Linked DNA regions of Homo sapiens. The protein of the gene in region 1 interacts with the protein of each later gene in a pairwise test. Each region holds a gene or a part of one and is shown on either strand. Other genes may lie near its edges. The genes, in order: DERL1, SLC10A6, SCN3B and UBE2J1.

Region 1 (6,971 bases):
TGAACTGTTCTTCCTCCAGATCTCCACACTGCTTGCTCTTTCACCACCCTGAGACGTGTACTCAATATCTTCTGAGTTTGCAGTGAGGCCTTCCCTCACCAGCCCAAATCTCCTTTTCTTCTTTTTTCTTTTCCTATTCCTATTGCCAGTTTACCTACTGTACATGTTACTTTTTTTTTTTTTTTTTTTGAGAGGAGTTTCGCTCTTGTTGCCCAGGCTGGAGTGCAATGGCGCAATCTCAGCTCACTGCAAACTTCACCTCCCGAGTTCAAGTGATTCTCCTGCCTCAGCCTCCTGAGTAGCTGGGATTACAGGCGCATGCCACCATGCCCGGTTAATTTTTGTATTTTCAGTAGAGACGGGGTTTCCCCATGTTGGCCAGGCTGGTCTCGAACTCCTGACCTCAGGTGATCTGCCCACCTTGGCCTCCCAAAAGTGCTGGGATCACAGGCGTGAGCCACCGCGCCCAGCCTGTACATCTTACTTTTATCTCTTTCTGTTGTCTTTCTGCCTCCTCTAGAATGTAAGTTCCAAGAGGGTGGAGATAATTGTCAGTTTAGTTCACTGTTTAGAACTGTTATTGGTATATAACAAGCACTGGACAAAAGCATTGCTGAATAAATGAATGAAAGAGCACCACCTTTGGGCTGGGCGTGGTGGCTCATGCCTGTAGTCCCAGCGCTTTGGGAGGCCGAGGTGTGTGGATCACTTGAGGCCAGGGGTTTGGAACCAGCCTGGCCAACATAGCGAAACCCTGTCTCTACTAAAAATACAAAAAAGTAGCCAGGCATGGTGGTGGACACCTGTAATTCTGGCTACTTGGCAGGCTGAGGCAGGAGGATTGCTTGAACCCAGGAGGCGGAGTTTGCAGTGAGCCGAGATTGCGCCACTGGCACTCCAGCCTGGGTGACAGAAGCGAGAGGGAGACGCTGTCTCAAGAAAAAAAAAGAAAAAAAAAAGCACCACCTTTGGCTTTAAATAGATCTGGGTTGAAGTTTTATATATGCACCTGCCGGCAAGTGCCAAGTTACTTAACTTCTCTAAGGCTGTTTCTTCATTTGTAAATGGAAATAAAAGTACTTCATAGGGTTGAAGCATTGTTGTAAAGACTAATTAAAACCATGCCCATAAAGGGCATAGCTGAGTGCCAATCAAACTGTAGACACTCAGCAAATGTTAGATATTAGTAAATAAAAAAGTTAGCTATTAGTATAAAATGTATATGCATAAAGGTATTCATTATAGAACTATATATAGTATTTAAAAACAGGTATCAGAAATAGGAAAATGGTCAAAAGATTCTGCCACATCACTAGTAGAATATTAGTCATTAAAATGATTATTAAGACTTTGTAGAAAGAGAAAGCCTTTAAAAAATAATTATTTAAATAATATTATTAATAAATTAATAATAAATTTAATAAATATTCAATATTATTTAAAAATAATAAATATTTTTAAAAGCCAGTCAAATTTAGCAGTGGGGGGTTGTATACCAACTTTAGTGACACTAATGTTAATAAGTTCTGATAAATCACTACCATCGGACCAGCCAGAAAGCCTTTGAATGTAAAGTTACAAGAAAAGACCAGACATACCTGGCCTACCGTTGCTCTGATTTAAACTTCAGTGTTTCTAAAGGCCGAAGTTGAATTCCAGAGCATTCACTATGAATTCTAGAGCACAACTTAGAAATAAACACTGCCAGGCCGGGCGCGGTGGCTCACGCCTGTAATCCCAGCACTTTGTGAGGCCGAGGCGGGCAGATCATGAGGTCAGGAGATTGAGACCATCTTGGCTAACACGGTGAAACCCCGTCTCTACTAAAAATACAAAAAATTAGCCGGGCGTGCTGGCGGACGCCTGTAGTCTCAGCTACTCGGGAGGCTGTGGCAGCAGAATCGCTTGAACCCGGGAGGCGGAGCTTGCAGTGAGCCGAGATCCCGCCACTGCACTCCAGCCTGGGCGACAGAGCAAGACTCCGTCTCAAAAAAAAAAAAAAAAAAGAAATAAACACTGCCAGATATTGGGTGTACATTTTTCTTGTTCTTGTCTTTTCTCATGCACGTGTACTTTTAAGTTTATCAGAGAAACTTTCCTTAGCCCTCCACCTAAGCCAGATAACCCCTGTTTTCTTTCACTGTACCTTGGTTATGAGTAGTGGGTACAAAACAATGGTGGTGGTAGTAGAGGGAAATAAACAGAATAAACCTCAGGCAATATCGTCAAGTATTATCTGTTATTTATATAAATATCTAGCTTTTATATCAAAATTATCTTTTTGTAAGGCTGTATCAATTTATATTCCCACCAGCTGTGTTCTTCGTAGATTTGCTATCCATTGGTTCCCAAATGTTGTATACTCTCATTACACTGTGGAATATTTAATGCCTTTTTGTTATGAAAAAACTGTTTTTATTAATTAACATCAAGGATATGGTGCTGACAAATATTCTCTAAAATTATGGAATGTTGGAAACTCTGCTGTCTGACATCCTTTCCGTGTGAATGGAACATCCCATTCTTGTCCAGAGCATCTGAGCCATACAGGTCACTTTGACACAGGATTTTCAATACAGGTACAAAGCTTTAGATAGAGTTTTCAGACCCAACGTTTCACATTTGTCGTAATTTTGAGATTTCCAAGGAAAGAGCCTGCTTCCTACTCAGGTCTGATGTTAACCTGATGCTGCACACAGCTCTGCTTTGCTTCGAGTCTATCAAACACTGCTCCAGTTAATTCTTACCAAAAAATCCCCCCATTCCCATAACCCAATAATGACACTTCCGTTTGATGAGAGGCATTGAGGTTCCTCTGGAGTGCAGTCTCCCTTGCTGCAGCAAGTTAATAAATCTAACTTTGTTGACTACAGGTTTGTTCCTGGTGCTCTTTATTGGAAGACTTTAGCAATCTTAAACTGCTGGCCCCAAATCCCAAAACAACGGGAAACTCTACTCAGTATCTTTTCTTTTTTTCTTTTTTTTGAGATGGAGTCTGGCTCTTGTCCCCCAGGCTGGAGTGCAATGGTGCAATCTCGGCTCGCTGTAACCTCCACCTCCCGGGTTCAAGCGATTCTCCTGCCTCAGCCTCCCAAGTAGCTGGGACTACAGGCGCCCTCCACCATGCCCGGCTAATTTTTGTATTTTTAGTAGAGACGGGGTTTCATCATGTTGGCCAGGCTGGTCTCGAACTCCTGACCTCGTGATCCGCCCGCCTCGGCCTCCCAAAGTGCTGGGATTACAGGCGTGAGCCACCGCGCCTGGCCAGTATCTTTTCTTAAAGATTCCTTCTTATACAAGTTGAATTAGACAAGATGGATCATTTTGGCTTTTAGTTCCTCCAACATTCCAACCTAGTTAGAGCGGCTTTTCTCTGTGCATGGAAAATTCTTCCCCCAGATCTCTTGCCTGGCTGGCCCAGTTCATACCTAAGGTAGCCATCTGTCCTCACACTGCCGCACCCCCACCCCGTCACTCCACCTCATCATCTCATTTCATTTTCCTATTTTTCTAATCACTCTCTGAGATTATCTTACTTCATTATCTATTTGTTTATAAATTATCCCAATGAGGATGTTAAGATCAGGAGAGAGGGTACCACGACAGCGCTGACAGCCGCAGCTGCCCAGTGTCTAGAACTGTGCCCAACAAACACTTGTGGAATGAGTAAGCAGACGAGGAACTAGACACTTCGTTTGCCTTCGTCCCCTTTAAATACCCTCCAGGTGGACCCAGCCGCATTAAAACTCTGAGAACTAGGTGAATGGCATTTGGCCTCGCCACTGGCCGGAGCGTTTGCCGTTGATCCAGGCAACCACTGTTTTCCCACCAGTCGTGTAGTCGCTCTACCTGGCTCCGCCCCCCAGGACGCCGAGCCTCGGCCGGGCGGTAAAATCGGCGCTTACCCTTTAAGCGGCGGGACTTCTGGTCACGTCGTCCGCGGTCGCCGGAAGGGGAAGTTTCGCCTCAGAAGGCTGCCTCGCTGGTCCGAATTCGGTGGCGCCACGTCCGCCCGTCTCCGCCTTCTGCATCGCGGCTTCGGCGGCTTCCACCTAGACACCTAACAGTCGCGGAGCCGGCCGCGTCGTGAGGGGGTCGGCACGGGGAGTCGGGCGGTCTTGTGCATCTTGGCTACCTGTGGGTCGAAGATGTCGGACATCGGAGACTGGTTCAGGAGCATCCCGGCGATCACGCGCTATTGGTTCGCCGCCACCGTCGCCGTGCCCTTGGTCGGCAAACTCGGCCTCATCAGCCCGGCCTACCTCTTCCTCTGGCCCGAAGCCTTCCTTTATCGCTTTCAGGTACTTACCGGAGACGGGGGGCGTGGAGACTACAGGCCCCAGGAGGCCCAGCGGCGGCTAAGCGTAGGCTGGCATGTTGCGGGCGCGCGGTGCCTGCTGGGATTTGTAGTGGGTCCGGCGCCGGCGGTTTAGGGCGGGGTCCTTTGGGCCCGGGGAGGCTCTGGGATCTGGAGCGGGGTGCTGGATAGCTGGAGTTGTGGGCTGGCCTGGTGGGGAGGGGTTGACTTCACTGGTATAGTGAGATTGTGCTTCCCGCTCTTCGCACTCAGTGAAGGAAGCAGTGAGATTAGTCGTTGGTAGTTGTCAATCTGTTGGACGCTGGCGATTAGGTCCGCCTGGAGCATTGCCCTCTGACCTCCCTCTGTCACCCACGTGGGTGGCCTGTAGGTGTCAACTTCACCAACTTATAGCTGAGTTCCTTTCACGTTTATGGAGTTTTTTTGTTTTGGTTTTCCTATAGGAGTGATTTAAAGTCAGAGATACAAAGAACGAGTGTATTGTTCTGCATTTCCCTCTAGACCTAATTTAGTGTCCCCCACGTAGTAATAGAATGTACGAAGGAATGGGCAAAGAGTACATTTGTCCAGAAATGGAAGGCCTTGTTATTTTCTTAAGCATGAAGGAAACAGTCCAGAGTAACATTTCTGTCAAGAGAGTGCCAGTTTTCTGAAGGTTATCTGTATTCACCAATTTCTGATTTAAAACTTCAATCAGTGGCAGGTCAGATAGCAAGATCTGGCATTAATTTCAGCCCTTTACTTGGCCTATGGATAACATTTTCTTGTCTTTCCCTGTCTTCACTGGGTGTTACTTCTTGGTTTCCTTTGCTGGTTCCTTATCTTCCTGACTTTTAAATGTTAGGATGTGCCTTGGGAATCAGTTATAGGACCTTTTCTATAGACTCTCCCTAGCTTTAGGTGGTCTCATTCATTCAGCCTCAGGGCTTTACATACTTTCTATAAACTGGAGATTCTGAAATATAAATATAAATATCTTCAGTCCAGATCTGTCTCCCTATTTCCAGATTTGTGCATCCAGCAGTTACTTGAAATCACGACTTGGATGACTAAGAGTCATCTTCATCTTAACGTGTCCAAAACTGAATCCCCTTTCCCCCTTTGCCTTAGAAGTGAATAGCAACTCCGTTATTAGAGGAGCTGAAGTTAATTGTCGGAGTCATCTTTTATTTTTCTTGTTTTTCTCACACCCCACAATCTGTCAGCAAATCCTATTGACTCTACTTGAGACATATATCCAGAATACAATCCCTTTTCATTCTCCATTGCAAGCCATTATCACTGCAATCTGGTTCCTTTCCATCTTTTCTCTAGACAGCTAGAGTGATCCTTTTAAAACCTACATCAAGTCCTGTCTTTCCTCTGTCCAGAATCCTACCATGTCTTCTTAATGAGTAAAATCCAAGTCCTTTCAGTGGCCTGCAAGGCCCCTGCTGCTTCTCTGACCTCATCTCCTACTACTCTCCAACTTGTACCTTAGGCTCCACAATGAGATCCTTGCTGTTACTTCAGTGCTTATCTGGATCTCTCCTCAGGGCCTTTGCACATGTTGTTTCTCTGCCTGAGGAAGATAACCGTGGCTCAGTTGTTTACCTCCTAACCTTCTTCAGATCTCTGCCCAAATGCCGTCTTGTTGACAAGGCCTTCTCTGATGGCCGTACATAAAATAGCCCGTCCTTCACTCCACTCCCTTATCCCTTATCCTTCATTTTTCTTTCTTTCTTTCTTTTTTTTGGAGACGGAGTCTCGCTCTGTTGCCCAGGCTGGAGTGTATATGGCGCAATCTTGGTTCACTGCAACCTCTGTCTCCTGGGTTCAAGCAGTTCTCCTGTCTCAGCCTCCCAAGTAGCTGGAATTACAGGTGCACACCACCATGCCCAGCTAATTTTTGTATTTTAGTAGAGACGGGGTTTCGCCATGTTGGCCAGACTGGTCTTGAACTCCTGACCTCAGGTGATCCACCCGCCTCAGCCTCCCAAAGTGCTGGGATTAGAGGCGTGAGCCACTGAGCCTGGCCTTATCCTTCATTTTTCTTGCTACATATTACCCTTTGGTATTTATTAGTCTGCTTCCCCTCAGAGAATAAGGCTCCATGAGAGCCGTTCACCACTGTCCTTGTTACCTGGAATAGTGCCTGGGACGTAGTAGGTGCTTATATATTAACTGAGTTGTTGGAAGTAATTGGGCACTTGCTGTGTGCTGGGCACTGGGGTACAATAGTAAATAGGACTGAAAAGGTTTCAGAGCCTGTGAAGACATAGAGGCACGTGTTTTAAGGGGTGTAATATTTGATAGGGTGTTCCACCCAGAAAGGCCTCAGAGAAGACATTTGAAGAAATTGGAATACTGAGGAGCCAGCCAGCCAGCTTTGGGTAGATCTGGCTCTGGAGACAACCTTCCAGGAAGGACTAGTAAGTGAAAGGCTCAGAAGTAGGAGCTGGGAACAGGAAGAAGACTGGGTTGCCAGCTGGCACAGGGTCAGCTGTAGGGTGAGGATTAGTAGATGACAGCAGGGAGATAGCCAGGGCTGGGTGTAGTAAAGCTAAGATGGAAAGGTGGGTTAAAGCTAGATCATAGTTGAGCCTTGTAGGTCATGTTAAGAGGTTTGAACTTTATTTTGAGGGCACTATGAAGTCTTTGGAGCCTTGTGAAC
Region 2 (7,040 bases), on another chromosome or scaffold:
GTGTGAGCATAGCTCACTGCAGCCTCAAACTCCTGAGCTCAAGCCATCCTCCTGCCTCAGCCTCCCGAGTAGCTGGGACTACAGGTGTGTACCACCACATTCAGCTAATTTTTGTACTTTTTTTTTTTTTTTTTTTGTAGAGACCAGGGTCTCTCTATGTTGCTCAGGCTGTTGTTAAACTCCTGGTCTTAAGCAATCCTCCCAATTCAGCCTCCCAAATTGCTGGAATTACAGGCATGAGGCACTGCACCTGGTCTGATTCCTTTAAAAAGAAAAAATAATGAAAGAAAAAAATCCTATTGATTTAACAAACAATCATGAAATAAATGGACTGCTTAAAAGAAAAATAAAAGAGTAGAAGGATGTACACAAATACTTGCAAGTTATCTAAGTTTGGATTTCTGAAAGGAGCACCAATCAGCTAAATATTTGCTTCTTAAAATTTTACTTGCTTTTGTCTGGGAAGAGCATAATTTTTTTTTTTTTTTTTTTTTTTTGAGACACTGTCACCCAGGCTGGAGTGCAATGGCATGATCTCGGCTCACTGCAACCTCCATCTCCCAGGCTCAAGCAATTCTCCTGCCTCAGCCTCCCGAGTAGCTGGGATTACAGGCGTGTGCCACCATGCCCGGCTAATTTTTGTATTTTTTTTAGAGATGGGGTTTCACCATGTTGGCCAAGCTGGTCTCGAACTCCTGACCTCAGGTAATCTGCACGCCTTGGCCTCCCAAAGTGCTGGGATTACAGGCATGAGCCACCATGCCCTGCTGGGAGAGCATAATTTTATAGAAAGTCTCTTTTTCTGGATTGCTATGGGGCTGTTTACCATTTGAACTAAGTATAAAGGGGTCATTTCAGTAAGATTTTTACCAATGTTCACCTGGAGATACGTGACATATGACGGAGACAGAGAGAATATTTCCATAGCACCAGTGTGTTGACATTGGTTCATTCTTTGATTCATACATTTATTCAGTAAGTATTTAACGAGCTCTTCCAATATGCTGCAGCGTGAGACTATGCCAGGTCTCCTAGAGATGGAGAGGAAAATAGGACCTGGCTGTCATGCCACTCACTCTGGCACAGATGGACAGGTACATAAGTACTTGTGTAGGGTACAGCATGTGTATAATTCATGAGCCAATGTCAATAAAACCATGTCCAGAGGGCCATGGATTCAGAATCCTAGAAGCAGGATCGCTAATTTTCCTAGATATTGCCAGACACCCTCTGTGGTGTACCATTTTTACCAGCAATGAGTGAGAGCACAGAGGGAATCTTTTTAGTATCATTGAAGTAAAACAGATGCTGCTTTGTCAAGAGTATAAACATTCTTCTGGCAGAAAATGTTAAAGTAGTCATAGACGTATTATTTTATAGACAGGGTAATTGGATGGAAGCAATGGTGATATATATTAGGAGGAAGAGTGACAGATGACTTGTAGACCCAATAAAGTGCTGAAGGACCTTCTGTCTATGCAGAAGACCTTGACGTATGAAGGGCCTCCTCCCTCTCCTTTGTAGAGCAGGAGGGCAGTCTGCTTCTCAGTCTGTCAGTCATTTGTGCCTTGAGCACAGAATGAGCACAGTGTCTATAAACAGTTTGTACATGCTTAAACAGATTGTGTAATTTTTTCCAGCAAATTGAAAGATAAAATATTTGACTGGTCTGATGGGTATCTTCTTTCCATTTATTTTCTTTCCCCTAATTTTACTAATGCATTCTTTCACTGGTTCTATCACTCAGGTAGGTACAAAATACAGCCTTAACTTGCGATTTGGGAGTGAGACTGAGATGGAAAGAATAGATTTGGGATGGAAGGCACCAAAAAGTGGGGTAAGGTTGAATATTTCTTCAGTTCTCATCCTCCCTGATTTTTATTGGCTTTTAGCCTTCATTTGGGAGCTTTCTTTTCTTAGCTTTCATGAAATATAACCTCCCAGCTCTCCACTGACTTCTTTTTTAAATTTTATTTTTAATTGACAAGTTAAATTATGTATATTTATGGTGTACAACATGATGTTTTGCTTACTTGCTTCTCAAATCCCAGCCTGCCTGCCTGCCTTCCTTCCTTCCTTCCTTCCTTCCTTCCTTCCTTCCTTCCTTCCTTCCTTCCTTTCTTTTTCTTTCTTTCTTTCTTTCTTTCTTTCTTTCTTTCTTTCTTTCTTTCTTTCTTTCTTTCTCTCTCTCTCTCTCTCTCTCTCTCTACATGCACCATGGGCTCTTCTTCCTCTCCCTGGTTTAGAGCAAAGGAGGCTTTACAATATATAAAATATTAACTATCAGTTAATGTAACTAAGTGCTTTTCCCTAAATAAATTTAGACCAAAAATATATATGGAAAATACAAAAACACAGTATATTATGGCCGGGCGTGGTGGCTCATGCACTTTAGGAGGCCGAGGCGGGTGGATCACCTGAGGTTAGGAGTTCGAGACAGCCTGGCCAACATGGTGAAATCCCATCTCTACTAAAAATACAAAAATTACCTGGGTGTGGTGGTGGGCATCTGTAATCCCAGCTACTCAGGAGGCTGAGGCAGGAGAATCACTTGAACCCAGGAGGTGGAGGTTGCAGTGAGCCGAGATTGCGCCACTGCACTCCAGCCTGGGCGACAGAGTGGGACTCCATTTCAAAAAACAAAACAAAACAAAACCCCAAAAAATCTGCAACAAATTACAAATGTGTGAAGCAGTAACTTAGTTCATATAATGTAATAACAATATAGTAATTGTCTTAGTCCATTTTGTGCTGCTGTACAGGATACCTGAGACTGGTTAATGTATAGAGAAGAGAAATTATTCCCTTACATTCTGGAGGCTGGGAAGTCTAAGATGAAGGTGCTGGCATCTATTGTCTGGTGAGGTCCTTCTTGCTCCTCACGTGGTGGAAGAGAGAAGGGCAAAAAGGAACAAACTTCCTTGGTGGAGTCCTCTTAAAATAGCATTAATTCATTCATGAAGGTGGATTCATTGTGACCTAAACACCTCCCAGAAAGCTCCACCTCTCAATACTGTTGTCTTAGGGATTTGATTTCCAACCTATGAATTTTGGAGGACACATTCAGACCATAGCAGTAATCACGATACACAGTTTTTGAGGACTTCAAACCAAGTACTCTTCCCCCTCTGTCACAGACATTATGTACTTAAAAGTTCTTAAGAACCATTGCGCTTAAAATGTGTTAGCCTTTTGACTTAGAAACAATTAACCTCAATAATAACAGAGATAAACAAACCAGTTTTCCAGTAGAAATCATTCTGGATTTGTTGAACAAAGACCACAACTTCCTTCTGATGGTCTCAGTTGTTTTCCTGGTAAAGCTATGTAGCATGGCTGTTGGTTTTGGTTTGGTTCGTCCGGCTCACAAACCCACATTTCACTTTCCAAGGTGGCCAGAGACAACCCCAGTAATGACACAGATAAACAGACTGATTGTCTTTAGAAATCTTTCCAGGTTTGTTCACCAAAGACTGGATGTCCCACTATCACCTTACTTAACACAACCCCTCTAACTGATGCTAAGTGACTCAGCTTTTTTGTATATCACACCATCATTTTGAAGCCTAGAAATCTTACTTTGTACTCTAACTCATCACTCTACTTCAATCTCAAATCTCAGTCCCTTCCTTTTCTTTTCTTTTCTTTCTCTCTCTCTCTCTCTTTCTTTCTTTCTTTCTTCTCCTTTTCTTTCTTTTCTTCTTTTCTTGTGTCTTTTCGTCTTTCTGTCTTTCTTTTTTTTTGAGATGGAGTTTCACTTTGTTGCCCAGGCTGGAGTGCAGTGGCATGATCGTGGCTCACTGCAACCTCCGCCTCCTGGGTCCAAGTGATTCTCCTGCCTTAGCCTACCAAGTAGCTGGGATTACAGGCACCTGCCACCACACCCAGCTAATTTTTGTATTGTTAGTAGAGACAGGGTTTCACCATGTTGGCCAGGCTGGTCTCGAACTTCTGACCTCAGGTCATCTGCCCGCCTTGGCCTCCCAAAGTGCTGGGATTACAGGCATGAGCCACCATGCTTGGCCCAATCACAGTTTCTAATCATAGGATCACACGATATCAGGATTGGAACAGAATTCTTAATTCAGTCTAGCATCTCACATCAGTTCCCTTTCTCTGTGGTTCTGTACCTTCCCTTGCCCTAACCAACTTGCTCTGTCTGCAGGTCAGCGACTGTGGGGGTCACTGCCCTATCCAATGGGGAGCTTATGGCATGTGGTGTTTGCGTGACTTCTTCCTGACAGATATTTATTAACACTTCATACTGGGCAGGCGTTCAGTCAGCTTTGTGGCATTCTAACTTGCTGATGTGGTTTGGGTGTTTGTCCTCTCCACATCTCATGTTGAAATGTGATTCCAGTATTGGAGGTGGGGCCTGGTGGGAGGCTATTGGATCATGGGGTGGATCTCTCATGAATGGTTAATGCCATCTCCTTGGTGATAAGTGAGTTCTTGCTTAGTTAGTTCACATGAGATCTGGTTGTTTAAAAGTCTGGGACCTCCCCTTTCTCACTCTCCCTTGCTCCCTCTCTGGCCATGTGAGATACCTGCTCCCCCTTCCCCTTTGCCTTCTACCATGATTGCGAACTTCCTGAGGTCCTTACCAGGAGCACATGCTGGAACCATGCTTGTACAGCCTGCAGAACTATGAATCTCCTTTATAAATTACCCAGCCTCAGGTATTTCTTTATGGCCATGCAAACAGCCTAATACACTTCCAATCCCCTTGGTACCAGAACTAGATATCACAAGAAAAGAAAACTGCAGATCAATAGTTCTTATGAATATACATGCAAAAATTTTCAATAAAAATACTATCACACTGAATCTAGCAACATAAAGGATTATACACCATGACCAAATATGATTTATTTCAAAATGCAAGGTTGATTCAATATACAGAAAAATCAATGTGATATACTATATTAATAGAATAAGGACATAAAAAGAATGAAGCTGTGATATATGTTAAAACATGGATAAACCTTGTCTTAGCCCATGTGAGTTGCCATGAAGGAATACCTGAGGGTAGGTAATTTCTAAATAAAACAGGTTTATTTGGCTCGAGGGTCTGCAGGCTGTACACAAGAAGCAAAGTGCCAGCATCTGCATCTGGTGAGGGCCTCATGAAGACCCCACCCATGGTGGAAGGGGAAGAGGAGCAGGCATCACATGGTAAGAGAGGGGAGGGAGGTGTCAGACTCTTTTTAACAACTAGAGCTCATAAGAACTGAGTGAGAACTCAGTGAATCCCACGAGAATGGCACCAGCCTGTTCATGAGGGATCTGCCCCTGTGACCGAAATATTTCCCACTTGCCCCCGCCTCCAACGTTGGGAATCAAATTTCAACATGAGAGTTGGAGAGGACAAACAGCCAAACTATTATCAAACGTCGAAAATGTTATGCTAAGGGAAAGAAGCTAGACACAGAAAAAAGGCTGCATGTATGATTCTGTTGATATGAAATGTCCAGAACAGGTAATCCTATAAAGACGGAAAGTAGATTTGTGCTTGCTAAGGGCTAGGGGAAGGAGGGATTGGGGAGTGACTGCTAATGGGGATGGGGTTTCTTTCTGGGGTGATGAAACTATCCTGGAAATGGTGCTATTATTGCATAATGTTGTGACTATACTAAAAACTGCTGAATTGTATAATTTAAAATGATGAATTTTATGGCTTGTGGATTATACTTCAATAAAAAAGAACTAGATAAGAAAATAATTCTATAGTGCCTAGCAGAATTTTAAGGCAAGTAGATAGTAAAATAAATATGAGGTAATTGATGGATGACAAGAACTACTGGAAATCTCTTTGTAGACCAGAAATATAGCCATCGTTTGTTAAACAACGGGAGAGAAATGAGCTCCAAGGAGCTTAGTCCATGTAATCTCTAGGAAATTGTGTCCTAGGAGTTGCTTTTGGTAAAGACTAAATTCTTCATGTCCAATGCTCCCTCCTAAGCATTGTATTAATTTTACTTTCAGCATCAGTATGACAACCTGTTCCACCGTGGCCGCCCTGGGAATGATGCCACTCTGCATTTATCTCTACACCTGGTCCTGGAGTCTTCAGCAGAATCTCACCATTCCTTATCAGAACATAGGTCTGTATGGGCCTGGGAAATGGAGGACTAACAGTAATGGTGATGATACTAATAATAGCTGTTCTTAATTATATAACTCTTTATGCAGGGATTTTTTTGGTAGTACTTAATTTAATCCCTTAAAGAACCCTACAGTATAGATTCTGTTACCAGTTCAGTCTCCTAGGTCTTCAGGCTTCAAGAGGTTTAGTAACTTGATCAAGATTATGCAGCTGGTAAGTACGGAACTGGAGTTCTAACCCGGGAATCTGACTACAAAGTGCAAACTTTCATCCCTATAAGAGTGCATTTTTGAAAAAAAAAGAAAGCCAGATAATTTACTTTGAAAAAGCAGGAATCAAACCCTTATGTAATTAGACTATAAAGCAATTGGACTCTTTATACTCCAAGGTTTAACTGGATCTAGTGGCTCTAATTAGACCTTCCTGTGACTTCACCTTTCACATTGCCTGCGAACCTTGACTTTTTCTTGGAGGTTGAATGTAAATAATTCTTACTGATTATGAAAACTCATCTACATGTCACAGTCTCACCCATATCTCTTTCATTATCTCCTCTTCTGAATATTATTTCTCATGAAAGTCTGCCATTTTCCTAAAGATCTCTGTGGGTTTAGCAAGCTTAGAAGAGAAATGTGGTGAAATGATCTGCCTTTTCTAGTGTGGTCAGTTTTTGAAAAAGTGATAGGCACTATGTTTTTTTGTTTTTTTTTTTTGAGACAGAGTTTTGCTCTGTCACTCAGGCTGGAGTGCAGTCGTGCAATCTCGGCTCACTGCAACTTCTGCCTTCTCCTGCCTCAGCCTTCCGAGTAGCTGGTACTACAGGTGCAGGCCACCACACCCGGCTAATTTTTTTGGTATTTTAGGAGAGACAGGGTTTCACCGTGTTGCCCAGGCTGGTCTCAAACTCCTGAGCTCAGGCAGTCCACCCACCTTG
Region 3 (7,040 bases), on another chromosome or scaffold:
TATAGGCACCACCACCATGCCCAGCTAATTTTGGTATTTTTAGTAGAGACAGAGTTTTGCCATGTTGGCCAGGCTGGTCTCAAACTCCTGACCTCAGGTGATCCACCCACCTCGGCCTCCCAAAGTGCTGGGATTCCAGGTGTGAGCCACCGTGCCTGGTCGGCTGTCATATATTTTGAATACCACCTTGGAGATGACCATTATTTACTCCTTCACTGACTGTGGAGCCAGGCCACCTGGGTTTGATTCTTGACTTCACACTTATTATCACCTCTGTGTCCTTGGACATGTTGGTCATCCTTTCTGTGCCTCGGTTTCCTCATTTTTAAAGTGGGGATATAAAGCATAGCCAAATTATAGGGCTGTTACCAGGACTCATGAGCTATAATTTTTAATGCATTAAAAATAGTTTCTGGAATATAGTAAGCACTGGTAAATGTTTGCTAGAGAAAAGATAGACACAGAAATGAGGAAACTGAGGCTCAAAGAAGTTAAGTTAATAACTAAGACAGCTTTGACTTGAGCCAGGTGGTCTAACAGCAGATACAAGGCCCTTTTTACGGCACTGCTTTGCCTTCCTGGGGGCAAGTTTCTCCTCCACAAAGATTTGTAACAGAGACAATGGAAGGGCGAAACTGGGTTTAGCTTGCTCTTCTTTCTCACTATCCTAAAGCCGAACCCATTTCTAACTCTAGCTTCTATGTGCCATTCTGATGCAGATTTGCAACCGTCTGGTACTAAGACTGGGACCAGCGGAGACTTCCCAGAGCCTGGCTCAGGTGTGACAGTGACACGTCAATGAAGCTGCAACTGAGGCTAGCCCCCAGCTGCAGGAGGCTGGATGTCTTGGCCAGATGCAAAGGCCCCCAGGGCCTTCAGGCCTGGTCATGTACCAGTGATAGCTGCCCACATTGCTTCCAGGCCTGCCCAAAGTGAGGAAAAGGTGGATCAGAAGAAGAAGAAAATGAAAAATAAAACGGCAACAGCAAAACATCCATGGAAATCCACAGCAAGGCTGTCTCATAGAAATGTTTGTGATGGTGGAAACCTTCTCTATCTGTGCTGTGCGATACAGTGGCCACCAGCCACATGTGGCTATGAATAATTGAAATGTGGCCAGTGCCACTGAGGAACTGAATTTTACATTGTATTTAACTTCTAAGAAATTGAATTTAAGTAGCTACATGTGGCTAGTGGAGACTAGAATAGCCAGCACAGCTGTAGAGAGAGAATGGCACATAGAAGCTAGAGTCAGAAATGAGTTTGGCTGTTATGTCAGAGGGTGGAAGTGTTGAGGAAAGAAATTTAAAAGATGATATTTTAGTTAAAATTCAGTCCAAAGCAAAAGATGTGACGTGTGCCTCTCTGGTGATGGCTCTCTGCTCATCTGCCATGCTTCAGCATCCTGGGCCTCCTTCCTGTGGCCTGGCCCAGACTGTCCTACAGCCCCTGATGAGTACCAGCACAGAGAGTCCAGTTTTAAAGCCAGGGCTTTCATATGTCTTCATTACTAATGAATCTGCCTGTCTTGCTGTCTCTACCTTGTTCTCTTGCCAGCGGCTCTGGGACACATCTTACTCTCTTGTTCTCTCTATCTTTTTACAATCCTGTCTTTCTCTCAATGTCCGTCTCCTGGGCTCCCATACTCTTCTCCCGCCTGCCTTTGTTCTCCCTCTTTCCACCCCTTTTTTTCTGCCAAGCTTCTTCCTACACGCCCGTGGCTGCCTCTGTCCTCACCACGTCCACATGCCCTGATGCCTGCTGCCTCTGCCTGTCCTTCCCTGTCTTTGCTCCCTTCCCTACCCTCCTCTGTGCCTCTTCATCCCACCCCCACATTCTGGGTCTCCCGGTGGCATTGTCCCCTCTCTTCCCTGTCCATGCACAATTCTGCTCCTTTTCTCTGCCCTGTCCCTAACTCGGCTTCCCCCCACTGCCATCTCCTTTCCTGGCCCTACCCTCTTCTGCTCCTCTATCTGCAGATTTACGAGTATCGGAATGGCCACCAGGAGGTGGAGAGCCCCTTTCAGGGGCGCCTGCAGTGGAATGGCAGCAAGGACCTGCAGGACGTGTCCATCACTGTGCTCAACGTCACTCTGAACGACTCTGGCCTCTACACCTGCAATGTGTCCCGGGAGTTTGAGTTTGAGGCGCATCGGCCCTTTGTGAAGACGACGCGGCTGATCCCCCTAAGAGTCACCGAGGAGGGTGAGGCTGAGGCACAGGGTCTCTAGGGCGTCCTGCTCTCTGTGGACAGGGAAGGGTAGGACAGCAGTTTTCCACGAGTGAGGCCCTTAAAGAGTGCAAAAACCCATGTATTTGGAATGGTGACATCTAAAAATGTCACCATTGACCCATCTTCTTCTGGTGGCCAGCTTCCTGTAAATTCCCTAAGCAGCTTGTCTTTCTGTGCCTTTCCTCAAAGCAGAAAGGCTTGGAGATGATAGAATGAGCTCTTCCTGGTCCCTTAGAGAAAGAGGCTAGCCTCCATGAGGCCTAAAGCTACTGATTCAGCTAGGCCTTCTTCTTTGGCCTATGTTGAATCCCTGACTCAGTGGGCTCAGAGAAATCTCATGAGGTTACCCGGAAGTCATCTCTCCTTCTACCTGTAAGCAATACATGCCTCTAAGCCAGGGGTTCTCAAACTTTAGCAAACCTCAAAATCTCCTGCAGGGCTTTTTGGAAGCCAGCCTTTCTGCTTTTGTCGGTGGAGCCTGAGAGTTTGCACTGCGTGACACACTGCCTGGCGGGCAGTGCTGCTGCTGGGACCACACCTTGAGAACCTCTCTCTAAACCAAAGTTTGACAATCTTTTTTTCTTTTGTCTTTCTTCACAGTAATCACACGTGCAACCTCTTCCCCATCTGTGGCATCTCTTATTACATAAATTCATTCCCTGCTGGGAGAAGGGGACAGGTTGATAGCTCTCTAGTCTTGTTTAAAATCTTTGGACTCCTACAGCTAGTTCCGTGTTCGTGAGTGGGAAGGCCTTTCAGCAGCCTAACTCAGGTGTTTCTGTTGCAACCGGAGTCCTGCATCCTGAGGGGGGAGTTCCAGCCTTTCTCAGTCTATCTCCAGCATTATCACTGCTAGTGAGCAGGCCAAAGTGTGGGGCATGAAGGAAAAGATCAAGTTAAAGACAGGGCTCTTCCTAGAAAAAAGGATCCAGGAATCCCAACCTCCAGGCCACAGGTTTATTCATTTTTTATCATGTCGTTGTGATAAAAATAATGAAGCGGAGATTCAGTCCTCAGAGTGAATGAACAAAGGAGAAAGAGACATAACGGATCAGACGATATGACTAAAATGGAAGGTAGGTCAATTCTGAAAGTGCAGAGGGACTCTCAGGGCTCCTGAATCCAGACCTGATGAGTCACTTCCCTGCTCGGAGCCCCGCTCCTCTGGTGTGAAATGAAGGGGTTGGCGGGGGGCTCTCTGAGGTACTCCCCTGTTCTGAAGTTCCTTTATCCCCCGTTTGTTACACGCCTTTCCTCTGGGGGGTGGGGCCCTGGCGCCCTCTCCTGGTCACCATCTGGAACTTTTGGTTGGTGCCCGCCAGACCTTAGCACAGTGCTCAGCCGTCTCCACCTCTGCTCTCTCGGGCTTTTGCCTCCAGACACCCTCGTGCATAGCTGGTGGGAAGTGTGGCAAGGCTGAGCTAGTTCGTCTGCCAGGTACCAGAGCAAGCCTCGGGTAAAAACAGAAGGAAAAACAAGTTTATTATCAGAGCCACAGAGCCTCGTGGATGGTCGGGTGTGAAGGAAGCGTGGATATCATTTATTTAATCCAGGGCCTCTGGATAAAGGGCAGACATCAGAATCGCCCACATTGGCGTCCTCCAGATGTAGACACCTCTGCAGCACCCTTGCAGGTGTGAGATCGGCAGGGGTGAGTGAGGTCATATGCAAGTTGATGACTCCCCAGGTGATTGGAGGGTGTAGCTCTGGTGCCCCTCTTTTTGTGGCTGGGAGAACAGAGTTCTCTGCAAGAGCAAGGGGCTTGCTCAGGGACGTGCAGCAAATTCGCGCTGGAAGCAGGGTGAAAATCCAGATTGTTCGCCTGTCTGGAGGGCTTGCTTTCCACTGTTTCTTTCCCCACCCCCACCACCCCAACCCCCTGCCACTTTTTCTTTTTTGCCTCTGTGACATCAGATACTCCCTGCCCTCATCTTGCTCAGAGCTACGCACCCACCCCACCATGACACCTGCCCATCAACCCCACATCTCCTCCATTCCTGTGGTCCCACAAGGTCTCCCTGGTTCTCTTTGTTCAAGTTGGGTTTATTCTGGCTTTGGCTGTCACCTCCTGGCCCTAAGGCAGAAACCTGAGGCCTCTTCACCTAGAGGTAACTAAAAATACTGAGGACAGCTTCCTGTATTGCCATTTGTGGGCTACTGCATTTTGAAAGAGAGAGCATGCTTTAAGCCAAACAAATCATAAATAATGCACGAGGTGGTAGCAAGGCGGTGAGATGTTTGAGCTGTACGGCATTCTCATGTGCCTCACGCTGCATCTATGACCTCTAGCTCCAGTTGGAAACCTGGGTGATCCTGGAGCCTTCGGACTGCTCTCTGGGCTGAAAGTTATGGCAGGCTGTGCTGTGCTCTTAACAACCAAGGACTTGGGGATGACTTAGATCCAATGGATAACTGCAGATCATAAATCTGACTTGCTGTTGAGAGCTGGCAAGGGGAGAGGTGGCTACAACATTTCTCCCACTAGCAAGGAGTAGATATATCAGGATATCTGCCATGTAGTATGTTTTAATGGTCCTTTTTGTTGATCATGAAACAAATAAGATAATATTTATTTTCACTCATTCAATAAGTACTTATTGAGCACTTTAAATATTCTAAGATTTATACAGCAGGCAGATAATCCAGAAATAAATATGTTCTCAATAAGCACACAGTCCACAGAAAAGAAAGATAAGCACAATACAACTCTTATAACAGATGGATGAGAAAAGTGCATGGAGGCCAGACGCGGTGGCTCACGCCTGTAATCCCAGCACGTTGGGAGGCCAGGGCAGGAGGATCACCTGAGGTGAGGAGTTCGAGACCAGCCTGGCCAACATGGTGAAACTCCGTCTCTACTAAAAGTATAAAAAATTAGCTGGGCATGGTGGTGGGTGCCTGTAATGTCAGCTACTTGGGAGACTGAGGCAGGAGAATCGCTTGAACCTGGGAGGCGGAGATTGCAGTGAGCCGAGATCATGCCACTGCACTGCAACCTGGGCAACAAGAGCAAAGCTCCATCTCAAAAAAAAAAGAGAAAAGAAAAGTGCACGGAGAAGGTTGTGAATAGCTCCGCATGAGAAGTTGGGGATGGTTTCACAAAGGAGGGGACCTCACAGGAATCTAGAACTACTGCGAGACTGCAAAGCAGGAGAGGATATTAGCACAGAACTAGCCGTGGGTGAAAGACACAATTCAGGAAGAGGGAAGAGGAAGAAAAGTTCACAGATTCTAACATACCACAGTGTGTAGCAGAAGTTTTTCTGGCCAACCAAATGGAAATGAGGTGAGAAAGCCCGGATTGTGAAGGCCCTTGCATGTCACGTGAACAGAGTTGGGGCTTCATCCTAAGGGGAGTGTGGAGCATTGAAGAGTTTTCAGCAGGGAAATGGCAGGATCCTAACTGTGTTTCAAAAGTACAGCCCTGGGGACAATGCGGTTGATACACTAAATCCTCCAATATTTATGTTTGGTTTTGGATGACCTGGAAGGTCTTGTTTCTAACCCAGACTTGTAGAGAACATGCGCATATCTCATGGAGGCTGTCTTTGTTGGCCCTGAATGAGTTTTCCAACGCTCTCTCCCCAGGAATACCACCCTCCACCACCGGCAGCTCAAAAGACAGAGGCAGTTGAAATAAGGCATGTTCCTTACATCTGTGTAGACTTTTAATCTCACAAGATGTTCTGAAATACATTAGATAATGTAATATTCACAAACCCCTGACTGGTGTTATTATCCTCAACCTACAAATTAAGAAACTGAGTCTCAAGTAAGGGAAATGGTTGTTTACACACCTGTAAATAGCAAAATGGACAGCCAGCTCTAGATATCTCACTTTGAGGCCAGGATTCCTTCCACTGCTCGGCTACTTCTTCCAGGCATCCCACTCCCTCTTCCCTGGCTCCTGAGCAGCTGATGACAGTCAGTGAGAAAGCCAATGGGCGGGAGAGTCAGGATTTGGAATACCTTTGACATCTTCTTGAGTTTCTTTACTCAGTCTTTATTTAAGCTGTACTTAAAAATATGGCTCCAATGACGGCTCTAGGTTTGCTGGATTTGCATATTCTGAACCTCATTCTCTTTCTTTCAGCTGGAGAGGACTTCACCTCTGTGGTCTCAGAAATCATGATGTACATCCTTCTGGTCTTCCTCACCTTGTGGCTGCTCATCGAGATGATATATTGCTACAGAAAGGTCTCAAAAGCCGAAGAGGCAGCCCAAGAAAACGCGTAAGTCCAGAGATGCCAAAGTAATAATGAAAGCTAGCACCTTCAGAATGCTTGCTCTCACAGGTGAGGTGCTAAGCAGTTTACATTCATCCTCCACCCTCTTCATGATCACTGCTTAAGAGATAGGCACCATTATTATACCCATTTTACAGATGAGAACACTGAATTTCGGAGAGTTGGCTTAAGGCAAACTCTTAATTCATTACGAAAAATTAAACATTTGCTTAATTCAAACATCACTTAGGAAACAAAGTGATGTTTGAATTCAGGCCTGTTGATTCTTGGCCAGCACACTTAACCACTAAGGCAAAGACCATCAGCTGCTACCACAACCCGTTAAAGTAATATTATTATGGCTGGGCATGATGGCTGTCACGCCTGTAATCTCAGCACTTTGGGAGGCTGAGGCGGGAGGATCACCTGAGGTCAGGAGTTCAAGACCAGTCTGACCAACATGGTGAAATCCCGTCTCTACTAAAAGTATAAAAAATTAGCTGGGCATGGTGGCACATACCTGTAATCCCAGCTACTCGGGAGGCTGAGGCAGGAGAATCCCTTGAACCTGGGAGGCGGAG
Region 4 (2,638 bases), on another chromosome or scaffold:
GTGATAGAAGTTAGAAAAACCTTTACTTAGAATTGTCCACCTAGTCAGAGCCCAAGAAAGAATTTTCAGTGGAAAAATCAATATATAACTTAGTGCTAGCTAGCGCCACAGACTCTAGTAGATAATATTATCATCATAATGGCTGGTGAAACCATATAATCACAGAAAAACATTGCCTTCAGCATGTTCAGTTCGCAGCACTGAGGGCACTCTTGAGGGTGTTGTTAATGAAGATTTAATTTTTAAATACAGGTGGTTCCAAGCTTTCAAATAGGTTATGCTCCAAAAGTGTTATTTGTAAGTTAATTTTTTTACAAGTCAAACAATGTTGGAAGTGGTATTTAGGTTCTAGATCGGTCCACGAAAGTTAGCCCATATGTATATCTTGAATAGTATAGGGGAGGGTATTCATAAAGTCCTTATGTGGTTTTAACTAAGTGAAATTATGGACAAGAGAAATAATTGTAAAATCGTCTTAAAGGAAAATTTAATTTTTACTCCTGTTTATGGGACATTCGTTCTATTAACTGTCAGACACAATTTCTGTTTTCATCTGAGAGCCAGTTTTCCTTTATTTCTACATCTAAAATAAGAACATATTGTACACTATTATATAATACAGAATTGTCTTAAACTTTAATAAATTCGCATTTTAAAGGTGTTTACAGATTATTTTTTATATCTGTAGCTGAATTTGTTAAAGTCTAAAAAGCTCAAGGACTTTATGAAGATCTCATTATATGAGGAAAATCATAGGTTACCATTTTATAACTCTATTGCCATAAGAAAATACACTCTAAAATCTTGATTTGAAACATATTAGAAACCTTGATTCAGTGCTCAGTGGTCTCCTAGTAAGAAGTCACCGACGGTAGCGTCATATGAGAAGAAAGAAATCCCCACCACCTCAACCTCTGCTGAGATTGTGTGCTAGGAACAGCCTTCCCTCCGTTTCCCCTCAGTCAAACTTGAGCCAGCCTCTGGATCGATGTGATCTTATTGCATGTTTCCATGGGGTGTACCTATACTTTAAGCCAATCCTGCTGCATTCACTGCTAAGTTAAATAAAAAGCCAAGAAGATTTTGCACTGTGCAGATCCTTTGCTATCTGACTTGCATCTCTTCCCCCACCTGTCAGCTAGCCACCTGCTTGTTTGTGTTGGGATATTTTTTAGCACCTGAAGCACCATCTGAAAGGGGCACCATTTTCTTCTTCCCTTTGATCTCACATATGCTCCCTAAAAATCCTTAAGTTGTCAATCTGATCCCCAGTGTGAGGTTAATGAGCAAAATTGGTCTTTGGGGCCCTTTTTGTCCAAGCCCCACTGAAAGGCCTCTTCAGAAAACTATTATCTTTAAAGCCCTACTTTAACTCCTTAATTCCAGCATACAGCTAAAACTGGATGTATATTCTGGCAAGTAAAGGCTGAGGACTCCTCTTTAATCCTCAGATCTAGATAACTCATGACATTTTATTTGACCAACATAGCACATGATGAGATATCAAGGTAATTAAAATAGCATGCTTGAAAAAAAAATACGTAATCTGTTTCACCTGTAACTGTTTAAGCCAATAAACTTTTCAAAATTTATGTAATGTGGGGCTTTTATGTAGCACTTTACGTTTTCATGCTGCTTATTGTTTTATTCTACTGAAAAAAATGAATTTCAAGATTCTCAACTTTTTTAATTTCAAAAATTGTTTATTGTTTTGACTATAGGAATACAAAATTTCCTATTTTGGGAGAATAAGAACTCTTTTTGTCATTTTTGGCTATGAATAAACTTTCTGGTCTTTTGAGACCACCCATTTTTATAGATCAGAATCAGAAAACAGGTAAACCTCACTCACACATTTGGACTCATTTGAACAAAAATCTAGGCCAAAATACTGAAAAGCCTATGTGTTTTTTTAATTGGAAGTATATGTAAGGTTAATGCATTTAGTGAACGTGACTAACAAAGACTAATGTGCACATTAACAGATGTACTTTTTAAGGTTTTATGGGAGGCTGTGCATTGCTCAAAAGCTGTTGGGAACGCCTTCTGAACAGTTGCCTTCAGAACTAGTTTGAGCTGCTCAATAAAACCAGTGACTTTACTCATACCTTGTTTTTGACCAAAGGTTGTATTCTTTACATCATCCAGTCTTGTCTCTCATCCATTCTACCTCCTAGAATATTTCTCTCTCATCTTTCCACTTCCCTAACTAGGCACTATATCCTATTTAGCTATTAACTCCTCCAAATTGGTGCAGTAACCTCCTAACAGGTCTCTAGTCTCACCCCATTCCTTACATTGCAGCCAGAGTTTTCAATATACAGACCTGATCTCTTCTCTCCTGTTGCTCTTAGATAGGGTGAAACCCTTAACATAAAGCACAAGGCTGTGCATGACTAGAGTCCCACCTAGGTGTCTGGCATAATCAGACCTCAGCAAATGCCTTTGGGGCCTTCCCACAGCTCTGACCTCGATCCACTGGGGCTATACCCTGCCCTGAGAAAAATGAGTAAATAAAGTTATACCATCCACTACCTCATACACCATATAAGAAAATTAACTCAAAATGGATCAAAGGCCTAAATGTAAGAGTTAAAACTATAAAATTCTTGGAAACTTAGTAAACGTGACAATGGGA

Evidence for each region.
Region 2: the proteins of DERL1 (region 1) and SLC10A6 interact in binary tests that used the Homo sapiens proteins (3 or more experiments, as listed by UniProt).
Region 3: the proteins of DERL1 (region 1) and SCN3B interact in binary tests that used the Homo sapiens proteins (3 or more experiments, as listed by UniProt).
Region 4: the proteins of DERL1 (region 1) and UBE2J1 interact in binary tests that used the Homo sapiens proteins (3 or more experiments, as listed by UniProt).

What each region holds. Positions count from the first base shown.
Region 1 is NC_000008.11:123,039,300-123,046,270, reverse strand, and holds the start of DERL1 (derlin-1), read left to right. Parts: upstream 1-3,968; 5' UTR 3,969-4,148; coding exon 4,149-4,301; intron 4,302-6,971. UniProt on the Homo sapiens protein: Functional component of endoplasmic reticulum-associated degradation (ERAD) for misfolded lumenal proteins. Forms homotetramers which encircle a large channel traversing the endoplasmic reticulum (ER) membrane.
Region 2 is NC_000004.12:86,832,370-86,839,409, reverse strand, and holds part of SLC10A6 (sodium-dependent organic anion transporter), read left to right. Parts: intron 1-5,985; coding exon 5,986-6,104; intron 6,105-7,040. UniProt on the Homo sapiens protein: Transports sulfoconjugated steroid hormones from the extracellular compartment into the cytosol in a sodium-dependent manner without hydrolysis.
Region 3 is NC_000011.10:123,637,611-123,644,650, reverse strand, and holds part of SCN3B (sodium channel regulatory subunit beta-3 precursor), read left to right. Parts: intron 1-1,979; coding exon 1,980-2,205; intron 2,206-3,176; exon of another isoform or gene 3,177-3,684; intron 3,685-6,030; exon of another isoform or gene 6,031-6,112; intron 6,113-6,326; coding exon 6,327-6,465; intron 6,466-7,040. UniProt on the Homo sapiens protein: Regulatory subunit of multiple voltage-gated sodium (Nav) channels directly mediating the depolarization of excitable membranes.
Region 4 is NC_000006.12:89,326,094-89,328,731, reverse strand, and holds the end of UBE2J1 (ubiquitin-conjugating enzyme E2 J1), read left to right. Parts: 3' UTR 1-2,107; downstream 2,108-2,638. UniProt on the Homo sapiens protein: Catalyzes the covalent attachment of ubiquitin to other proteins. Functions in the selective degradation of misfolded membrane proteins from the endoplasmic reticulum (ERAD) and is essential for cells to recover from ER stress.